3 linked regions of the Homo sapiens genome follow. The protein of the gene in region 3 interacts with the protein of the main gene of each other region in a pairwise test. Each region holds a gene or a part of one and is shown on either strand. Other genes may lie near its edges.

What was found.
Region 1: the proteins of PLA2G6 (region 3) and MAT2B interact in binary tests that used the Homo sapiens proteins (3 or more experiments, as listed by UniProt).
Region 2: the proteins of PLA2G6 (region 3) and RCBTB2 interact in binary tests that used the Homo sapiens proteins (3 or more experiments, as listed by UniProt).

Annotation. Positions count from the first base shown.
Region 1 is NC_000005.10:163,501,659-163,508,624, reverse strand, and holds the start of MAT2B (methionine adenosyltransferase 2 subunit beta), read right to left. Parts: upstream 3,007-6,966; 5' UTR 2,939-3,006; coding exon 2,876-2,938; intron 1-2,875.
Region 2 is NC_000013.11:48,495,075-48,502,098, forward strand, and holds part of RCBTB2 (RCC1 and BTB domain-containing protein 2), read right to left. Parts: intron 6,795-7,024; coding exon 6,668-6,794; intron 4,687-6,667; coding exon 4,547-4,686; intron 1,248-4,546; coding exon 1,117-1,247; intron 1-1,116.
Region 3 is NC_000022.11:38,171,810-38,178,833, forward strand, and holds part of PLA2G6 (85/88 kDa calcium-independent phospholipase A2), read right to left. Parts: intron 1-7,024. UniProt on the Homo sapiens protein: Calcium-independent phospholipase involved in phospholipid remodeling with implications in cellular membrane homeostasis, mitochondrial integrity and signal transduction.

The sequences.
Region 1 (6,966 bases), on a different chromosome or scaffold from region 3:
ACAAACAAAAAAACCAAAAAAAAGAAAACTAACGTGTTATATAAGTATACAATCATAGCTGTTTTTGTTTTTTTAATAGCAGTTTGAGGCCGGGTGCCAGGGCTCACGCCTGTAATCCCAGCACTTTGGGAGGCCAAGGTGGACCAACCACTTGAGGTCAGGGGTTCAAAACCAGCCTGGCCAACATGGTGAAACGCTGTCTCTACCAAAAATAGAAAAACTAGTCGGGCATGGTGGTGGGCGCCTATAATCTCAGCTACTTGGGAGGCTGAGGCAGGAGAATCGCTTGAACCCTGGAGGCAGAGGTTGCAGTGAGCAGAGATTGAGCCACTGCACTTCAGACGGGGTGAAAGAGCAAGAGGAAAAAAAAGAAAACAAAAAAACCCAGCAGCTTGTTAGAAGAGATATTATTTCCAAAGAGAGTAACAAGAAGTCCAGTGTTAAATGTTTTGTCTATAGTAAAAGAGAAAAAGCTGGAACCAGAACCTGAGTCTTGCTTCTCTGGTCAAGTCAAATACACTGCATTTTGTCTCAATCCTGTGAACTAATATTTGGTTTCATGAATGATTAAAGTTTTATCTGTTCTGCCACAAATTGGTGTTTAGAAGTTATTCTATCTCTATTGATCTAATTCCTCATTGGTAAATGGGGAAGGCATTTAGACAAAATGACTAAGGCTCTTTCAGCTTTAAAGTTCTATATTTCTAACATTTTCCATATTATCCCTACCACGAGGAGTCCGAATAGTTTCGTTTACTTAAATAAGGTAACTTTTCCTCTGAATATGCATTACTCCGAAATTTAAAATATGCCAAACAAATATCTCTGTTTTTGAGCTTCTATATAAGCAATACTCTGCCTTTTACACTGTTTTGTTGAGGCTTTTTGGTTCGTTCTTTAGAAAAAGAAATATCCCTCTAAAAACTACTTTGGACCTGCACTCCATAAATTATTTTAGTTGTGCACAAGGAAGAAATGTCTAAACACTTTAAGAAAGTCAGAATGAAAGAATAAAATGCTATCTAGTTCACTCAAGGCACAATAAAGAGTTGATAATACTTTGCCTGAAGTCTACTTTTTCTCAATTTTTATTATATGGGGGAAAGTAGATCTAATATCAGTTTAAGTTACTCTAAACGTATCTGCCTCTTATTGTCTAAACTCTGAAGTACGGAATTCAATCACTCCAAGGGACCAGATTTATGGACACCAAAAAAACATTTCTTGAAAAATTAAGTACATATAAATAAATATTCTTATTATCGTATCTAATCGAATGATACCAAATTGTATAGGTAATGGGAGATACATGGCTCCTTCCAAATGGTCCAACACAGTACTCTGGGACAGTGATTTCTACTTTAGCACACCTGCATTAATGTCTACTAAAAATGTTCTAGAAAAGTAAAGAATGGAATACTATTAGTATGTGGTTTTCCCAAATTTCAGTGGTAAATACCTTGTCGTTTTTGGAAACTTTAAAACTTGGCACAGTTCCATGTTTAATTTTTTAATTCCCCAGAAACAGACCCTTAAGGTAAACATTACTGGGCTTTACTTTTTAAGATTCTCTGACTACTTAGGTGGGATTGGTCTAACTTCTACTGCGACGCTACTGTGCTCCACAGACAGTATTACTAACAACAACCACTCCAGGATGCTTCTCTAACGTTAACTATGAGACAGTTCTCGTTCTCATGAGTCAGTAAGCTTTAATTCTACAGGTTTTGAGAGCAGTAAGTCTGTGCCAAGCTCTTCGTTGTTTCATTTTTAATGAAGGAAAACACGAAAAGCTATTTTCATTTTTATACTGAACTTCTTTTTGTGAAAGTAGATTAAGCTTTATATGCACACGTACACATACAAATGCATACATATAAATGTAAACGTATGTAACATGCACTCAGCACGGTCTGGAGGACCTAGGAACATAGAGGTTTAATAGACCATTTATCCTAACTTTACCCTCAAAGAACCAAAGTGATTTGAAAACCCTAAGTAAATTTGGAAGCATGAAAACTTTGCAATAACAGAAACAGCCATCTCCTATATTCTCTACTCTCTCCAAAAGACATGGTCTGGGCATTAGTAGTGTTCTTATCCCCAGGGTTGGATATGTTCTGTGGACAGATTAATGCTGGAGGCCCTTAAGTGGAATGGAGCAGGATGGGACGGGGGCGAGGGGGGCACCAGAGATGGATCTTCCAATCATCACCATAATCTTCCTTCAGGGAAACTCCGTAGTGGTTCAAAGCCCAAGACAGTCACACAAACCTGTATCTGAATTCCAGGCTCCAACCTTACGGAATGAACCTGGGCCAATGTCTCACCCTCTATGCCCGTTTTCTCGTCTACAAAATGAGGCAATAACAAGTATCTCACAGTGGAGGATTAAAGTAATGCCCGTCAAGTGCATAACATAGTGCTGAGAACTTAAGAGTTCAATAAGTTGTCATCTCCAGCACTGTTATTTGTGAGAAGTCACCTTTTCCTGTTCTTTCTCAAACCTACGAACTTGTAAGATCGAGAAATACGAACCAAAGATGAATAAACGGGGAAAACCAAAATCAAAACAAACAATTCTGAAAAACCTCTTCGTCCTCAGGAGCAGAGACAGAACTCGAAAGTAAAACCTCCACCTACTTGCTTCCTGCCGCAGTGGCTGGAAGAAAAAAACACTGACCCGTGTGCGCTGAGATAAACAAACTCGGTGGCGCCCCCCTCGGATCCGGGGCTGGGAGGGTGGCGGTGAGACCACTCCCGGCCGGAGGCTCTGACCCGGGCGGAATACGCCTGCAAAGCCGCCCGAGCCCCGGTGGCTCGTCCCCCTCGGCGCCCCCGCTCCCACCGGAGACGCCCAGGCCGACTCCCTCACCTCCACCAGCCGACAGCTCCCGGGAACAAAGTGTATAGAGAGCTCTTTCTCCCGCCCCACCATGCCCGCCGTCTTCACGCCGCAGCCTCAGCGGCCGCCACCTCCTCCAACCCAGGATCGACGCGGGCCTCAGCTCAGACGCCCTCGGCCCGCCTCCCCTAGGCCCAGAACGACCCCGCTCGCCGCTTCCGGCTTCCGCTGCCATAGCCGCGCCCGTTGATTGGCCACGCTCCGCCGACGCCCCAGAAAGAGGGCGGGTACGCGCGGTCTGCCCCCAGCCCACGCGCCGATGCTTAAAGCGACACACAAAAGAAAGGCCCTGACCTTAGGCAGTGAATTCAGGTTTTGTTTCGGAGATTTTATTTGAGTGCTTTTTATTCTACTTTTTTTCCTTTTTTTCTTGACTCGGGAAAAGATTGAAGTGGATCGCCTTGAGTTTCAAGTTTGCAGACTGCGCAGTGCATGAGGATCGACTGAGCAATATAAAAAGTGGAATAAAAAGCATTTTAAAGTCATGGGGGCGGGGGCGGAGGTGGGTAGAGCATAATGGACACATCTCTAGAGCTCTAGGTGGGGGTTTTGAAAGATTTAGAAAAAGACAAGGAATAAAAATAAAAGGGTTGGCGTCTGAGCCATTTGTCTTCCTGGGATGCTTAAAAAAAGAAAAAACCTGTGTGTGAGATATCAAAAATGTAAAACTATTTTTAACTAATTAAAAATAAAAAGTTGTAGGGGGAAGGAAGATGAACTACTTAGGTACCTCTTCAAAACGCAGATCCTTGGACTTTACCCATAATTACAGAACAAGAAACGAGCCCGGGGTCCGACTTCTTAATGGGTTTAACCAGAATCAAGCCCACTCTTTAAGAAACACCGCCTCGGGGATTGCAGGATTGGGCCACACGAGCCCAGCCTTGGTGAGCACCGAGAATTTAAGCAGCAGCGTGTAAGGCTGGGCGTTCTACCACCTTTTAAAAGTTAAGCAGCCCTAAGTGCTGATGCCGACTTATTTCCCTTCCAGTTAAAAACCGCAAAAAATCCTCAGCCAGGCTGGACGCCTGTGAAATTGATGCAGAAAGTAAACCCTGGCACAGGCCGTGTAGGATTTGCCAACTTTGCACCGAACAGTCCAAGGGTTCTTGTGTGCCCAGGATAGCAAGCTCTAAACGTCGTCCACAAACGTGACCACTGTCTGGATTTTCCTAGGGCCTTTCCCCGACTCCTAAACCTTTTTGGTTTATTTTCAAACTAAAGACTAAGCAGCCTTTTAAAGAAGTTTTCCACGTCAGAACACCATGACTTTCCTTCCTCCTCAACCCCCAACAAAAACTCATTTCCTTATTCGTGTAAACATAAAGTTTCTCTAGAACAGTAATCGAAGACAGCCTGAGGTTTCTTATGTTCCGATTTTTTTTTTTTTTAAACACAGGCTATTACTGTTCATTAGTTTGGCTTTATTTAGGGAATCCTTGAGGACTGCCCCAGCGCTAAACAAGCATAATCAGGGGACAACAAAGAAGAGGGCGGGAAGAGGGCCGGGGGAGCAGCCAAGATCATCTTACTACTTTTTCTCTTAACTGGGAATTCGGTTTAAAGTTTCTAGTCGCAACACGTGATGTAATCTTACCTTTCTATGGGAGAAAAGAAAATTAATTCTTCATTCTTCAACGTGAAGCAGGTTTAAGGGCAAGCATATGCAATTAGCATTCTGATTCTCAGAGCAGCCTAGTCTTGAGGAACAGAAAGAATTTAACTTGGCTGCTTTTGAAAATCTGACTTGATACTTTCCCCGTAAAAGTTGGGTACAGTTCTAGGGGCATATGTTTGGATATGGTTTTTAATCATTTTCTTTAATGATGGTAGGGTCTATGCGAATCAAACGCCATTCTTAACATAGACAATATACAACTTCGTGTGGTGGCTAAGTCTATACATTTAAAGAGAGCAGCCTGAAACTAAAAGTTATGTTAGCAGATTCAATTCATACAAAGACAAAGAACATCTGGAAAGGAACACACTACAGATAAAATCCTTATTTATGTAGAAACTTTATATACATAATTGCATTTAAAATGGTAAATGAAAGTGCAATTCTGTATTGTCAGCTAGTGAGACTTAGCTGAGCCCTTCATAACCTGGTTCTCCGGGTCAGTAACTAAAGTTGGCTTATTCTTCCATGTCCCGAGGTTATGTTTTAAGGAAATGAATGACACCCGTTTCTATTTTCTTTACACAACAATTCTGGTTTTAGCAGGCGTTCACTGGAATGCTTTTAAAGCATCTCTTACTCTAGAATGCTTCATTTCTTGAATTGCTAGTTCTTACCTGCTCCATGTCCTCTGGCATTTCAGGCATGACTCCAGAATTATTTCAGGAGAGCAGATACGGGATGGGTCTTAGCCTCTGCCTTCTCTTGCTGGGTCTTTGTTCGCTTCTGCCTGCAGAGAGCGCAGGCACGCCAAAACGTGAGGAGCAGCTTCACTTGACCTTTTAAATTAGCATTTTGATTCCAATCCCGGAATCTCGTGCAGTTCTCCACATGGCAGTAAGCTGGTAGCTGATTCCCCGTAGTAGTCTCGAAAATACCCAATGAGAAGTTTCATGTTTAATTGCCAGTCAAGCCTGGGTCTATTTGCAAAACTATTTGGTAGAACTAACTACTTAACAAAAACAAAAACAAAAACCCAACAACTTCCTGTCAAGATTCCTTGTAGTTTTCTTTTGCAAAAGAAGAGTGAGCCACACTTTTGGAAAGCACACAGATCATGCAGTTGATTCCTGTTCTAAAAGGCACAGTTTTCTATCATTTTATTTAGTTACACCTTATTGCAACAGATTATGTTTAGTAAAATTCTCCAGTGCTTTCCCTTCCCAGTGCTTTTAATTATTTCAAAGGAGAGTAAAAGGCAGTGGTGGTAACAGCACGCAAGAAGTAAAATGCAACGGGTCATTTCCATTAATACTATGCTGCCCTCTGAGAAAATGGTAGATGGAGTGAGCGGCCTTAAGTTTCACAAAGCATTAAGGACTTCTAGATAAGTGATTTCCAAACCTGCCTGCACCACAGAACCTAAGAAACGAAATCATTCTCTGGGAGCGAAGCCCAGTAATCTGTTTTCGAAGACTTTCAAGGGTCATGAACGTGCTCAGTGAGCTTTGCACCGCTATTCTGAATTATGGCTCTGTACCAATTTAAGAACATCAAAAATTGCCATTCAAATTGAACTAAAAAAATCATCTGACTTTTAATGTTACATTCATTTAGAGCACACAGCGCATGGTAAACTCTAAGAGGCATTCAGAGAAATCTATTAATATAAATTATGAGGAATTGTTGTGTGTGTGTTTGCATTTGTGAACAAATGTGAACCTGAAAAAGCCAGTCCTTCAAGATGGATCCCAAGTGGCTAACTGGGCATAATTTATTTATTTTTATTATTTCAAGACAGGGTCTCCCTCTGTCACCCACGTTGGAGAGCAGTGGTGCCATCACAGCTCACTGCAGCCTCGAACTCCTGGGCCCCACGTAATTCTACAGCCTCAGCCTCCCAAGCAGCTCCACAGATAAGGAGTGAATATTCGCCTTGGCCATTCCCGGATTCCTTAGCTCCAAGCACACATTCTTCTTAGACCACAGGGTATTCTCAGGGTATGCTTAAAGTTATTGCTGTCAGGTGCATCTGCCATACAACGCTATTTATTTATTATTATTATTATTATTTTTTTTTTTTTTTCTTTTTTGAGACGGAGTCTCGCTCTGTTGCCCAGGCCGGACTGCGGACTGCAGTGGCGCAATCTCGGCTCACTGCAAGCTCCGCTTCCCGGGTTCACGCCATTCTCCTGCCTCAGCTTCCCGAGTAGCTGGGACTACAGGCGCCCGCCGCCGCGCCCGGCTAATTTTTTGTATTTTTAGTAGAGACGGGGTTTCACCTTGTTAGCCAGGATGGTCTCGATCTCCTGACCTCATGATCCACCCGCCTCGGCCTCCCAAAGTGCTGGGATTACAGGCGTGAGCCACCGCGCCCGGCCCTTATTTATTATTTTTAAGACGGACTCTCGCTCTGCTGCCCAGGCTGGAATGTAGTGACATG
Region 2 (7,024 bases), on a different chromosome or scaffold from region 3:
TCATCTACTAAAATGTCTCTGTTTTCTTTGACCAAAGGAGAGGATATCCTTATACCAAAAGGAAACTGACTCGAAGATGTTACAGCCTGTTTCCTAAAGATTTGGTTCTAAGATTGGTTTTCTTTCCTTTCTTTATTATCATAACAATACATGGTCACTGTAAAAGTTAAAAAAAAATAAGCAAAGAGAAGAAAATAAAAATCACCCACAATCCCACCATTCAATGATAACCACTAAGCATAGTTTTCAGTCTTTTTTTCTATGTAGATAATGAATTTTAGTTTTTTATTCAGCTATTTATACTTTTTCAAAAAATAAAAATAGGATAAGTTTTTCACTTAGTGATATATCTTGAATAGCTGCATAATTTCTTGATATTAACATTTTATAAACAAGCCTCCACTATTCACACTAACCTTTTTCTGATTTTTCAAAATTATAAACTGCTGAAGTAAACACCTTTGAAGCTAAGTCTTTGTGCAAATCCATGATTAATTCCTCAAGATAAATACTTGTGAGTGAATTCCTTGAAGAATTATGTCTTTAATTTAAGGTGCTTAATACATATTATACCAAATTGTTCTCCATACCAATTTGTACTCTCATCAGCAGTTTAGGAGAACACCATTATTCTGATCCTATACATTATCTCTAAAAATATATTCCTGCTTTGACAGGTGAAAAGTTATACCTTGTTTTCATTTATGTTTTTTGTCTATTTATAGAGCCATTTGTTCTTTGGTCCATTTCTTTCAACCAAACTGTTCCTATTGTCTTTTTGTTTTTCACTCTGGTAAACAGACTTCATTATATGTTGCAAGTATTTTTCCCAGTGTCTCATTACTTTGTAAGTTTCTCTATGGTATTTTTAAGTGGATAAAAGTTTCTTATCTTTTTAAATCAGAGCTATAAATCCTTTATGGCTTCTGCCTTTGATGTCCATCCCAACATTATATAAATACTTGCTTATACGTTGTCTAGTACTCTTGTTACTTCATTTTTTAAAAAATATTAAATATTTCCTCTACCCAGACTTTCTTTTAGTTTAAGGTACGAGGCAGACACCTGGGTTCCATTTCTCCAGGAGGCCGGCAGCTGGAAGCAAGCTTTCCTTACCTGTGCATCATACTTCACCGCAGCCGAGAGCAGAGCGATGGCATTCTCCTCGCAGATGCCTTGCTTGATAGTTTGTTGGCAGAGCTTTTTCAAACGATTTTCTCTATAAAATGTAGCCAAGTCTAGCAGTCCTGGCGGAAAGAGGTGTTTATTAGGGGGAGTGATTTCAAGCATCCTGATTTACAGTTGCTCACTCAGCCACTCAGAGATGATTTTGACACTATTTTAGATATAATCCTCAGTGAAGCACTGCATAGACTGATGCTGACTGACACTTACACTTCAGTGTGGGGCTCTACCCAGGATGGCAGCCAAGCTGAGCAAACATGATACACAAATCATTAGCTGTTGAAAAACAGGAGCACAGGGAAAATAGCTTTAATATTTTTTTCCTAGGAAAAAAGCATGTGCGCCTTGAATGACCCCTTCCCCTGCAATCTCAATGTCAGCTTCTCCTGGGCCACTCCCAGGAGCACACACACATGCTGTAAGAGTGCCCGCCGTGAAAAGAAAGAAAAGAAAAGAAGAAAAGAAAACAAAAGAGAAGAAAAGAAGAGAGGACAGGAGAGGGAGGGGAGGGGAAGGGAGGGGAGAAGAGAAGAGGGGAGGGGAGAGGAGGGGAGGGGAGAGGAGGGGAGGGGAGAGGAGGAGAGGGGAGAGGAGGGGAGGGGAGACCCTTTCATGGACACGTGTCTTCCTCCTGTTACCCTATCCCACTGCTCCTCTCTACAGCAAAACTCCTAGACAGAGCTATCTGTATCTGCTGTCTCCATTTTCCCACCTCCCATTCTGACCTCAAGCCATTACAAGCAGAACCCCATCCCCACCACTACTGCAGTCACACCCTTGGTGGTCACACCTGTGGCAGTCACAGTGGCTTTGAGGGTGCAATATTCTCTGGTTTCCTCTTACTCGACATTTACACAGAATTTGATATGGTTGATAATGCTCTCCTTAGGACACTTTGTCACTTGCTTGCATTTTTCTTCTCTTTAATTAGTTGCTCCTCAGTTCTCTAGGCTGGATCATTTTTCCTGACTTCCAAATGTTTGAGTGCCCCAGGGTTAAATCCTCAGACACTTTCCTCACTTACTTCCCAAAACCCCAGCCCCAGGGTTTTAAATATCATCTATATATGCAGGTGAGTCCTGTTATATTACCTGTCACCTATTTTCAAGTAATTCAACGTAGACTGGGTGAGGTGACATATGTAAATTAATTTTAATCTACCCCAAGGAATGATAGGAAGTACTCTAATTGAAGCAGTCAATCAGCATCTGAAAGATCCTATTTGTTTTTCTGAATCTTCATTACAGGATTTGTAATTAGCATAAAGAATGTCAGAATTAGTTTGTCATTGCTGAAATGAGTGGTAGCCAGGATCAAAAGGCTAGCTGAATCCGGCTACTAGAACACTGTCATGTCCACCTCAAGCTAACTTTTCATGCAAGGTACTTAATAGAGTGTACGAAGTATAAAGAGCAGGGATTTCATCAATTTTACCATATTAATTGTTTTTGTGTCTATCTGCTAATAAATCTTATACATGTGGTAGACTTTGGTTGGAAACTTGCTTTTTTAATAACAAATATTATCAAAGTTATAGAGGAAAGACAGATAGCCCACTGGAGGACACTGAAATCTTGAGTTGTGAATGGCTTCATTGTTTTTGGCCCCAAGCTTCAGACACACATGCAAGCTGCACTGCCCTAAGAGAGGACTCTGCCCCAAGCCCCAGCTCTGCGCCTCCTCCACGCACACCTTCAGCACAGGGTGGCTAAGGAGCCACATGCCCACTTCTAGACCACACTTTGGGTACCTGGGAACCTGGGACTGCCTGCATAATTGGCCTTGAGGCCACATGTGTGGGTATTTCCTCCCTTAGACCCCACCACCAATGTGCAGACCCCCTGGCCCAAAAGGGTAACCTGGGTTGGGGGTGGATAGAGCTTGGAATGCAAGCTAGGGTGCCCACACACCCTTCTGCTGGAGGAGGGGTCTGTCCTGCCTGTGCCATTGGGTTCTGGCACAAGAAGTCCTGCAACTCTAAATGTCAACTAAAATTGAAACCTGTCCTTTCAGTTCTTAATGAAATTACATTTTTCAAGGTGGGAGGATTGGACATATTTTTATCTGAAGTTCACTAGCTTGACATATAACTTTAAGTTTTTAGACATATGGAACATAGGTCTCCATTTGGAGTCTTGGCTACAGCCCCACAAATGTTAGTGGTGGGCCGATAAAAAACTGCCACTCGCGGCCGGGCGCAGTGGCTCACGCCTGTAATCCCAGCACTTTGGGAGGCCAAGATGGGCGGATCACCTGAGGTCGGGAGTTCAAGACCAGCCTGACCAACACGGAGAAACCTCGTTTCTACTAAAAATACAAAATTAGCCAGGCGTGGTGGTGCATGCCTGTAATCCCAGCTACTCGAGAGGCTGAGGCAGGAGAATCGCTTGAAACCGGGAGGCGGAGGTTGTGGTGAGCGGAGATCGTGCCATTGCACTCCAGCCTGGGCAACAAGAGTGAAACTCTGTCTCAAAAAAAAAAAAATTATCACTTGGGTATCTAATGGGAAGCTCAAACTCCTTTGACTTTCAAAGTCCAGAGCAAGCCTGTTGTTCTCTATCTTCCTCACCTCAGTGCCATTAAGGCAGCTACCCAGGCCAAGTACCTCAGTGCAGCCATCCTTCTCTCTCAACTCACACCTCTCATCCCATCTATCAACAAATCCCATCAGCAACCTCTTTAAAATATATCTAGAATCTGATCTCTTTTCAATACTTCCACTGCTATACAACCCCAACCCAGGAGACCATCATCTCACACCTGAACCAATATAATAACTGATGTTTTAAACACAGATCACATCTCTCCTGTGGCAGAAGCTGCTAGTTGCCTCTCTCCCGACCCCCACCCCAACACACACACACACACACACACACACACACACTCTCTCTCTCTCTCTCTCTCTCTCTCACACACACACACACATCCATTCTTCCTTTCTACTGAAACCACAGAATTTTTAGCCAAGCTACGGCCCTCTGGAAATGCCCATTTTCCCAGCCTCCTAAGCCACTGGGCACAGACTTGACTGACTCAGGCCCACAGTCTGAAATAAGTGGAATTCCTGGGCCCTGCTGGTGGAGACACGGGGATCTGCTGCATGGCCCTCAGTCTCTGTCCCTTCCTCCATGCTGCTGCCTGCAATGCTCCACGGTGGTGATGATTTGATTCTTCTCTCTCTTATCTGTCCAGTCAACCTTTGTAATAAAGTAGTAACAAGGGAAACGTGTTTGGATTCAACACACACAAAAAGAAATACTTCTGTAATTACCCTCACAGTGACTTTCTTTTAGGTTCTATAGAAACCACCTTGTCAGTTCCTCAACATTTTGCCAAGTTTTTGGAAGTCTTTGGCAATTACCTACTGCCTCCTCAGGAGAAAGGCTGATGCTGTCTGTGTATAGGTATTCCAGGAAGGCCCGGTAAACAGGATATGAAAATTCACTCATTTCTACAATATCATCCTCGTTATCTTCCAATGACGAACGAAAATGCTCACATCTGAAGGAAAAAAGCAGTATGTCAGGTCCTAGCTTCCCAGCCAGGACAGATGGCCTCTGTGAGGACCACGTTCTTCTCTCGAAGGTGCACGCTGGCACGTCCCTGCTGTGGCTCCTCACTTTCTTTGCTGGCCAGGGTTTTCAAACAATCATCTATTCAGCAAGGCTGTATATACAAACCTGCTGCCAGGGGTGGCCTGGGAAGCAGCCCCAATGGCCGTGCTAATGGGGACAGAGCTGGGCTCCCTGGCATCTCTCTCACACCACAACCACTGTCAGCATTTAGAGAAATCAGTGGGTTTATTTTTATAAAATCTAAGTAATTCTGTTTCCTCACTCCATTACGGGTTGAATGATGTCCTCTAAAAATTCCTGTGTTGAAGTCCTAATGGCCAATACCTCAAAATGTGACCTTACTAGGAAAGAGAGCCTTTAAAGAGGTAATCAAGTTATAAGAAGGTCACTAGGGTGGGCCCTAATCCAATATGACTGGCATCTTTATAAAAAGGGGAAATTTGGACAGGGCGCGGTGGCTCACGCCTGTAATCCCAGCACTTTGGAAGGCCGAGGCGGGTGGATCACGAGGTCAGGAGTTTGAGACCAGCCTGGCCAATATGGTGAAACCCCATCTCTACTAAAAATACAAAAATTAGCCAGGCATGGTGGTGTGCGCCTGTAATCCCAGCTACTCAGGAGGCTGAGGCAGGAGAATCACTTGAACCTGGGAGGAGGAGGTTGCAGTGAGCCGAGATCAGGCCACTGCACTCCAGCCTGGGCAATAGAGAAAGACTCTGCCATCTAAAAAAAATAAGGTGGGGGGAAATTTGGACACAGACATGCACAAAGGGAGAATGCCACATGCTGACTGGAGTTAAGCAGCCACATGCCAAGGAAGGCCAAAGACTGTCTGCAAATCCCCAGCAGCTAGGAAAGAGGCAGGAACAGATTCTCACTCACAGCCTCACAAGAAACCCATCCAGGTGACACTTTTGATCTGGGATTTCCAGCCTCCAGAACTTTATGTTGCTTAAGCCACCCGGGCCATAGTACTGTGTTACAGCAAACAAATCCACCCCCCTTCTTTCATGCAGGTTGATGTGATATAGAGAGAGTGAGCAAACGCTGCACAGCTTGATCTTACTAAAGAGGAACTTGAGACTAAAATGCTGTGTTGAGTGTGTGACTCACTGCAGTAGGATTTAAATATCTGTTACACAACAACATAATGAATTTCAAAATCATCATGTAAAAGAAAGAAGCCAAGCACAAATGAATGCATCCTGTATCATCCCATCTAAATACACTCTAGAAAATGCTAACTCAGCTACAGTGACAGAAGGAGCTGCGGTCACCCAGGGCTAGGACATGAGGGGTCTTTGAAGGGTGATGGGAATGTTCTCTGTCTGGATGTGGGGCAGTGGTTTCACAGGCGTAGACATGTGTCAGCACTCATCAAACTGCACATTTGAAATGCACACAGCTCATTGCTCAAAAACATTCACAAATGTGATTTTTTAAAATCTCTGTGCTAGCCTCACTATAGACCTTTTTGGTCTGGAAAGGCCTTGATCTTCTCTTTCTTAAACCATCTAAAAGTACGCCACAAGTGATTATAAGAAGGTGATTATTAAGAGCTGAGCTTGATTCCCAGGCAGAAACGGTAACTGATGGACGTCCAAGTATCAATACAGTGTTCAGAGCACAGGACACACTTGGAGCGTGCGCTGGCTGCTCCCTGCTGCCAAGGTGACCACGCCACTTTTCAAGCCTAAGGAACGCCTATGGTACTGGTTCCCGGAACCACACAACCTGTGTTATTTCTTGTTTCATGTATATTTCTCCCCGCTCCACTGTATGCTTGTAAGAGCAAAAACAGCCTTACAATTTTTCTTGATTACTGAGGTGCCTAATATAGTTGGACACTTAGAATATAATTGTTGAACGAATTACTTTTCTCAATTCTCAAATAAATGATTCCTTACCGAATCTTGAGAAGGACTTTATGTGCATAAATGTACTTTCCATCAACTAGAAACTTCAGGTCTGCAGTGTCCGGGTTGTCAAATTCCCTCTTCAGTGACTCAGCCACTGTGAGGTGGTCATCAGGTTCTAGGAGAATAATGCAAATGCTTCCAGAGTTAGCTACAGACATAATGAACACACAGGACAGGATATGGCACTACTCTACTGGTACTCATGAAAGTACCAATTCCTCAAAATAACTGAGCAACTGAGCAATGGATTTTTTCCCCTGAAGACAGATTTGCATCTCTGTAATCATTAAGAATAAGAATCTCACAAATATCTGCTTATAAATCTGGCAAAATAACAAGAAAAAG
Region 3 (7,024 bases):
AGACTCCGTCTCAGAAAAAAAAAAAAAAAAATTATAAAGACAGGGTCTTACCACGTTGCTCAGGCTGGTCTCGAACGCCCGGGTTCAAGCGATCTGCCTGCCTCAGCCTCTCAAAGTGCTGGGATTACAGGTGTGAGTCACCGTGTCTGGCCTAAAATGTTCTTGATACACCATCACCAGATGCCAGGTTCTCTCTCCTTGCTCTGGGCTCTCCCTCACTTTAAACACATCTGTACTATCACAGCCCAGCATGTTACAACTGCCCCTCCTGCCAGACGGTAAGCTTCGTCATCCTCCTACCAAACACTCCTGTGCATCTTGCTGGCACCATCCTGAAAGCTTTACGTACATTAATCATTCTGTCTGACAACCACTCTATGAACTGGTTACTATTATTATCCTCATTTTACATATGAGAACACCAAAGAACAGAGGGGTAAAGTCACGGGCCCAGGGTCACCCAGCTAGTGGGTGGAGCAGTGAAAGCTGGCACCCAGATGGGCTGGCCCAGAGTCTGAGTTTCTCAAAGGCAGCTGCTCGTCTTTTCATCTCCGTCCACAAGCTTGGCTCACAGAAAGTTTGTCAAAACAAAAATTTAACTGAGTAAATATTATGCATAGAAAAAACAAAGCCTGATAGAAAACAAACCAAGATAGACTGACAGAAAACATGCCATTGAGTAGATGAGGGTGCTGGGTTTATGGGCTTTTGTTTTTTCCTTTTCCCTATTTTCCAGATGCTATGTAAAGCGATTATAGTTTTCAAAGGAAGTAGCAGTATAGGCTGAGCCTCTGGGGGCTGCAGCCGGGAAGATGGGGACCTGTGGGACTCAGGCCTGGCCTGGAAGAGCGCAGAGAGGCTACCCCGAGGACGGGCCCACAGGGACGCGGAGGGGTGCGCCCAGGAAGGGCAGAGAGTCAAGAGCATCCAGCACCCATGAGCCTCAGATTGAGGGAGAAAGTCACCAGGGGTGCAGTGAAATCAAAGAAAGATTCCACACACCCCTTCGTCAATGGCCCAGCCTGTGTACCCCCCACCAGAGCCTGGGGCTAGGGGATGCCCCCCACACACCCACGACAGCATGGCCACAGAAACGACAGGCTTGGCTGGCATCCAGCCTTCAGGGTAGGCAGGAGGACGAGATGACGCAATGGAGGGAAGGTGTCTGGGACACAGGCCGACTGTGGGCACACAAACAGTGGCCATTGTTATCACTAGGTGGAAGAAAGGAAATGACAGCCACGGGGCCACATCCTGGAACACTCACGGCATTGCCAACCAGGAAGGCGGGCCAGCAGGGAGAAAGTGCTCACACGTGCTTCCTTCTGTCCCTGCCACCTTGGACCCTGGAGCCTAGGCTCTTCCCAGCACAGCTGCAAGAGGGGGATGGTGGATGAGGGCCCCCCGCATCATGCCTCACTTCATCTCTCCCCCTGGCTTCTCACAGCGTCCTACCCTTGACCTTCCCGTGGGGTAGACAATCACTTTTCCCCACTGATGACCGGCCCCTCCTCCTCCTTACCTGGGCTTCTCCCTGCACCCCCAGGATGCCCAGGTCACCTGACACAGACCGCACCTCGGCTGTGTCAAGCAGCTCTCTCAAACACCACAAGCAGAAAGACAAAGACCCAAGACCTTTGGTGGTGGGGGTTGACAGTGACAATTCTGCCTGTCCAAGCCAGGCAATTTCCAGGTACCAATTTTGGTGCCCCTGCTGAGGGAAGCCAGATATTTCTGGCCGTTTTCCTTATCTCTGCTCACCCATCCTCTGTCAAAACCAAGCTTGCCTGCTGGGTTCATTGAGGGAAGACTGACAGAGAGTGTGCTGGTGTGAGGGTCCCCTGGAGGAGCTGAAGGACGGGAGGAACAAGTATTATTATCCCATCTTCCCATCTCAGAGATCAAGAAACTGAGGCCCAGAGAGGCCCTGAATTGTACATGTTCAAAGGGCAAATTAAGGCCGGGCACAGTGGCTCGTGCCTGTAATTCCAGCATTTTGGGAGGCTGAGGCAGACGGATTGCTTGAGCCCAGGAATTTGAGACCAGCCTGGGGAACATGGCAAAACCCTGTCTCTACAAAATATAAAATAAAATTAGCTGGGCATGGTGGTGTGCGCCTGTGGTCCCAGCTACTCGGGAGGCTAAGGCAAGAGGATTGCTTGATCCTCTTGAGGTCGAGACTGCAGTGAGCCAAGATTGCACTACTGCACTCCAGCCTGGGAGACAGAGCAAGACCCTGCCTCAAAAACAAAACAAAACAAAGGGCAAATTAAAGTTGATGTCCACCAAAAAACAAAAACAAACGGGCTGGGCGCAGTGGCTCACGCCTGTAATCCCAGCACTTTGGGAGGTTAAGGCGGGCGGATCACGAAATCAGGAGATTGAGACCATCCTGGCTAACATGGTGAAACCCCGTCTCTACTAAAAATACAAAAAAAATTAGCTGGGCGTGGTGGCGGGTGCCTGTAGTCCCAGCTATTCGGGAGGCTGAGGCAGGAGAATGGCGTGAACCCGGGAGGCGGAGCTTGCAGTGAGCCGAGATCATGTCACTGCACTCCAGCCTGGGCGAGAGCGAGACTCTGTCTCAAAAAAAAAGAAAGAAAGAAAAACAAACGAAGAAACAAAAAACCTCGAGTGGGAACAGAGGGAGATTGGAGCCAATGGTAGCATCTCTGATGAGTTCCCTGGAAGTGACTACCTGGGTTCATAAAACAGTCAACAGAGAGACCCAAGACCAGTCCCTGTCTCGCCAAGTGCACGGTCCCCTGAGGGAAGGACCCCTAAAGGGGATGACTTTTTAGCTGAACTTTCCAGGAAGAACAGGAGTTTGCCAGCGGGGGAAATGGCGAGAGGCCTTCACAGCAGATGAAGCAGATCAGAACACGGAGGAAGGCAGAGATCAGGGGCTTGCTCAGCCCACCCATGAACGGTGAGCATTTTCACTGGGACTGGACGGCTCGAGAGGGGAAGGTGCTGAGAGGAGGGGCCGTGGTTAGTGCTGTGATCAACGTGAACACAGGTCACCTGGAGCCACTTGTCCAGGGCTGCTATGTCAGTCACGCCCCTCGCCATGCCCAGGGAAGCTCCTCTCATGACGAGGAGCCAAGCCCCGGAAGAAGTGCAGTAGAGGACAAGGGACCAAGAGGGTGGCTCAGAGCGGGTGGTGAGGGAGAACTCAGTCCCAAAAATCTGGTTCCTCCTCAGCTACGAATTCCCTGAAGGACCCTGGGCAGGTCTCAGGCACGGGAGGAGCGGTCCCTGCCCTCTGATTGCTGCTACCTGCCGCAGCTGCCAGGCCCAGGCAGTCCCCTCTCCTCCCCTTTGGAAGGTCTGTGTGAAAACTGCTTTTCTGTAGTGAAAGGGGCCTGCACTTGCGTCCTCCCTGGAATGCGCTCTCCAGTTCCTGCTGGAGCCCCTGCTCATCCTTCAAGGCCCAGCTGCCCCCTCTGAATGCTCAGAGCACCAGAGTGCCCTTCCAGCCTGCACGGTTCCCAACCCAGCCTGACACCCCTCCATGCCCACTGTACGATGCAAATCCAGCTGCAGGTCTCCCTGCTGACCCTGGCCAGTGGCGCCCCATGACCTCCCAGGGAAAGCCCAGACTCCAGCATCCATGAGAGCTGGCCCAACTCACCCCTCCAACTCATCCCTCACCTCTACTCCAGCCACGCCGCACCATCGATCTTCCCAGAACACGTCAAACTCGTGTCTCAGTGCACTTGGGGATACCACACATACGCTCCATCAGCGTAGCCCATCCTCCCCACTTTCTTAACCTGAATGTGTGCTCCACAAAGGACAAATGAACAAATCTCTTCTTATCCATGAAGATACAGCTCAGGTGCCATCTCCTCTGAAAATTCATACCCGCACCTCCGCCCTGCAGCCTGGTGTGCCTTCCTCTTCTCCCCAGCACCCCACACCACCCAGGGCCCAGCCCACAGGAACACACACCATGTGAGAATGGGGGTGCATCTGTTGGCTTGGGCTGCTCACCCAACCCGCTTTGATTTGTTTCCCTAAGCACCTGGCATGATGTTCCTGACTCACAGTGGGTGTTTAATAAGTTTGGTGAATGAATGAATGAGAATGAATGAATGAACCACCTATAAGCCCATGGGGCCAGCACCTCTGAAGCCCCCAGACACACTTTATTCCCTTGAAGGTGATAACAGGGACCACACACTGTTCCCACCCACTCTGAGCTGCCATGCTCCTCTCCACAACGGATAGGGAAATACCATGCTCAAATCCCACCAGTAGCTAACGGCCCACAAGGGGTTCGCTCCTCCACCGGGAGAACCTGTATCTAGCACCTGCACTCCTTCAGGAGCGGCCCTAAGTGATCGGACTGATCCATCCCCAGGCTTCGGTCTGGAAAGTTCAGCTTTATATATAGTCAGGGCACTTAGGCTGAGCTCACTCCTAGTCCAAGCAGGAAAGACTCCAAGCCTTCTGCTTCCTTCTTGACTAAGCCGAGAGCAGAGGAGCCGGACAGCTGCCCGAGAGGTGCGTGACAGGAACCCACAGGCAGCAGGCCAGGAAGCAGACCTCACAGGCTTGGCCACGTGGGGGATTCCAGGAGCACACACAGAACTGCCCGAGGTGGAAATCAGGCCTCACGAGCCCCAGCTGCTGACGACAGGATGTCCCATGATTGGAACAACTGTTGGATGGTCCTGGCAGCAGAACCTGGCAGCAGTGACACCCTCCTGAGCACCCTCCTCCCACCCAGTCAAGACAGAGCAGGCTGGAAACTCAGGGTCCACTCAGAGTGCCAAGCTGCCCCAACTTCCTTCCTGTAGCTCCGTCTGTGCCACACAGCACGGGAGCATGCCACCACACACCGGCCTCCGTCCTCTCACAAGGCCACCATGCCTCACGGTTGGCAAAGGGTTTCACACTTGTGATCCACCTCCAAGCTCACAAAGAAACAGGGAAGGCGCAGCCGGGCGCGGTGGCTCACACCTGTAATCCCAGCACTTTGGGAGGGTGAGATGGGCAGATCACCTGAGGTCAGAAGTTCAAGACCAGCCTGGCCAACGTGTGAGAAAAAAACCCCATCTCTACTAAAACTACAAAAAAAATTAGCCTGGCGTGATGGTGGGTGCCTATAATCACAGCTACTTGGGAGGCTGAAGCAGGAGAATCTTTGAACCCGAGAGGCAGAGGCTGCAGTGAGCCGAGATCATGCCACTGCACTAAAGCTTGGATGACAAAGTGAGACTGTCTCAAAAAAAAAAAAAAAGAAACAAGGAAGGTGCAATCATTCTCCCTGTTTGGCATGTGGAGAAATCAAGGCCCCAAGAGAGGAAATGGGGTGGCAGGTTGTGGTGGGGGATTGCCTGCCTATGTCCTCTGACTCTTGAACAGCACTAGGCAAAGGGCTGGCCACACAGCAGGTGCTCAATCTGTGGGTGAGAAAACACTGAATGAACACAGGGGTCATCTGAGCCTCTGAACCTCCAAGGCAGCCTCCCGGCAAAATGTCCCCGCAAATGTTCCCTCTGACCCCAGCTCATTCCAACCTCTTTCCTAAGTTAGTGGGAAAGGGCTTGATCCCATCCCCTCACACCCCATCAGCACCCACTGCTGCCCAGCACCCACAGGGCGCCAGACGCTTCACCACAGTTTCGGGTAAATTGCCACTTTTTTTTTTTTTTTTTTTTTGAGACAGAGTTTCACTCTTGTTGCCCAAGCTGGAGTGCAATGGCGTGATCTTGGCTCACTGCAACCTCTGCCTCCCGGGTTCAAGCGATTCTCCTGCCTCAGTCTCCAGACTAGCTGGGATTACAGGCGCGCACCACCACACTCGGCTAATTTTTTGTATTTTTAGTAGAAACGGGGTTTCACCATGTTAACCAGGCTGGTCTTGAACTCCTGACCTCCGGTGATCCGCCCACCTCCACCTCCCAAAGTGCTGGGGTTACAGGCATGAGCCACTGCGCCCGGCCGAATTGCCACATTTAACCCTCCAAACACCTGTAAGAAAAGGTCCAGGTCTCTCCACATTACACAGGAAACTGGGGCACAGGTTACACAGTTTGCCAGGATCTGAACCCAATTAGGTGGAATCCAGAGCATCAGGCTCTTAATCCTCAAACTGCCTTCAGGAGAAAGCTGAAAGAAGGTGGCTGAGCGAGGCTTGCTCAACAGGCTCTTAGATTCCAAAAGCCAAGGCCCTCGTCTCAAAATGCACTGCTGCTCACGTGAGCCAGAGCAAAACGTCCTTTCACAAAAGGAAAAAGCATCTCTTTCATTCACTCCGCTTGGCTGGACCACAGCTGGAAGCAAACTGCCCCGAAACTGTCACTGGAGCTCCCAAGCACATGAGACAGGGGTGACTTTAAGAGATCTTTGGGCTGGTGGCACGGTACAGTGTGGCCCATGTTATGACTCACTCCACAAATATTTACTGAGATGGATTGTGGCAGGCATTGTTCTAACCGCTGAGGATACAATCGTAAACAAAACAGACTGGTCAGGCACGGCAGTTCACTCCTGTAATCCCAGCACTTTAGGAGGCCAAGGAAGGAGGATCACTTAAGCTCAGGACTTTGAGACCAGCCTGGGTAATATAGTGAGACCTCACCTCTACAAAAACTTAACAATTACCCAGGCATGGTATCTCTCATGCCTGTAAGTCCCAGCTACTAAGGTGGCTGAGGTGGGGGGATTGCTTAAGTCTAGCAGGTCGAGGCTGCAGTGAGCTGTGATTGTGCCACTGCAATCCAGCCTGAGCGACAGTGAGACCCTGTCTTAAAACAAAACAAGGCCGGGCGCGGTGGCTCACACCAGTAATCCCAGAACTTTGGGAGGCCGAGGCGGGTGGATCACTTGAGGTCAAGAGTTCAAGACCGGCCTGGCCAACATAGTGAAACCCCATCTCTACCAAAAAATACAAAAATTAGCTGGGTGTGGTGGCGTGCACCTGTAATTCCAGCTTCCTGGGAGACTGAGGTGGGAGAATCACTCAAACCCAGGAGGCGGAGGCTGCAGTGAGCTGAGATCGCACCACTGCGCT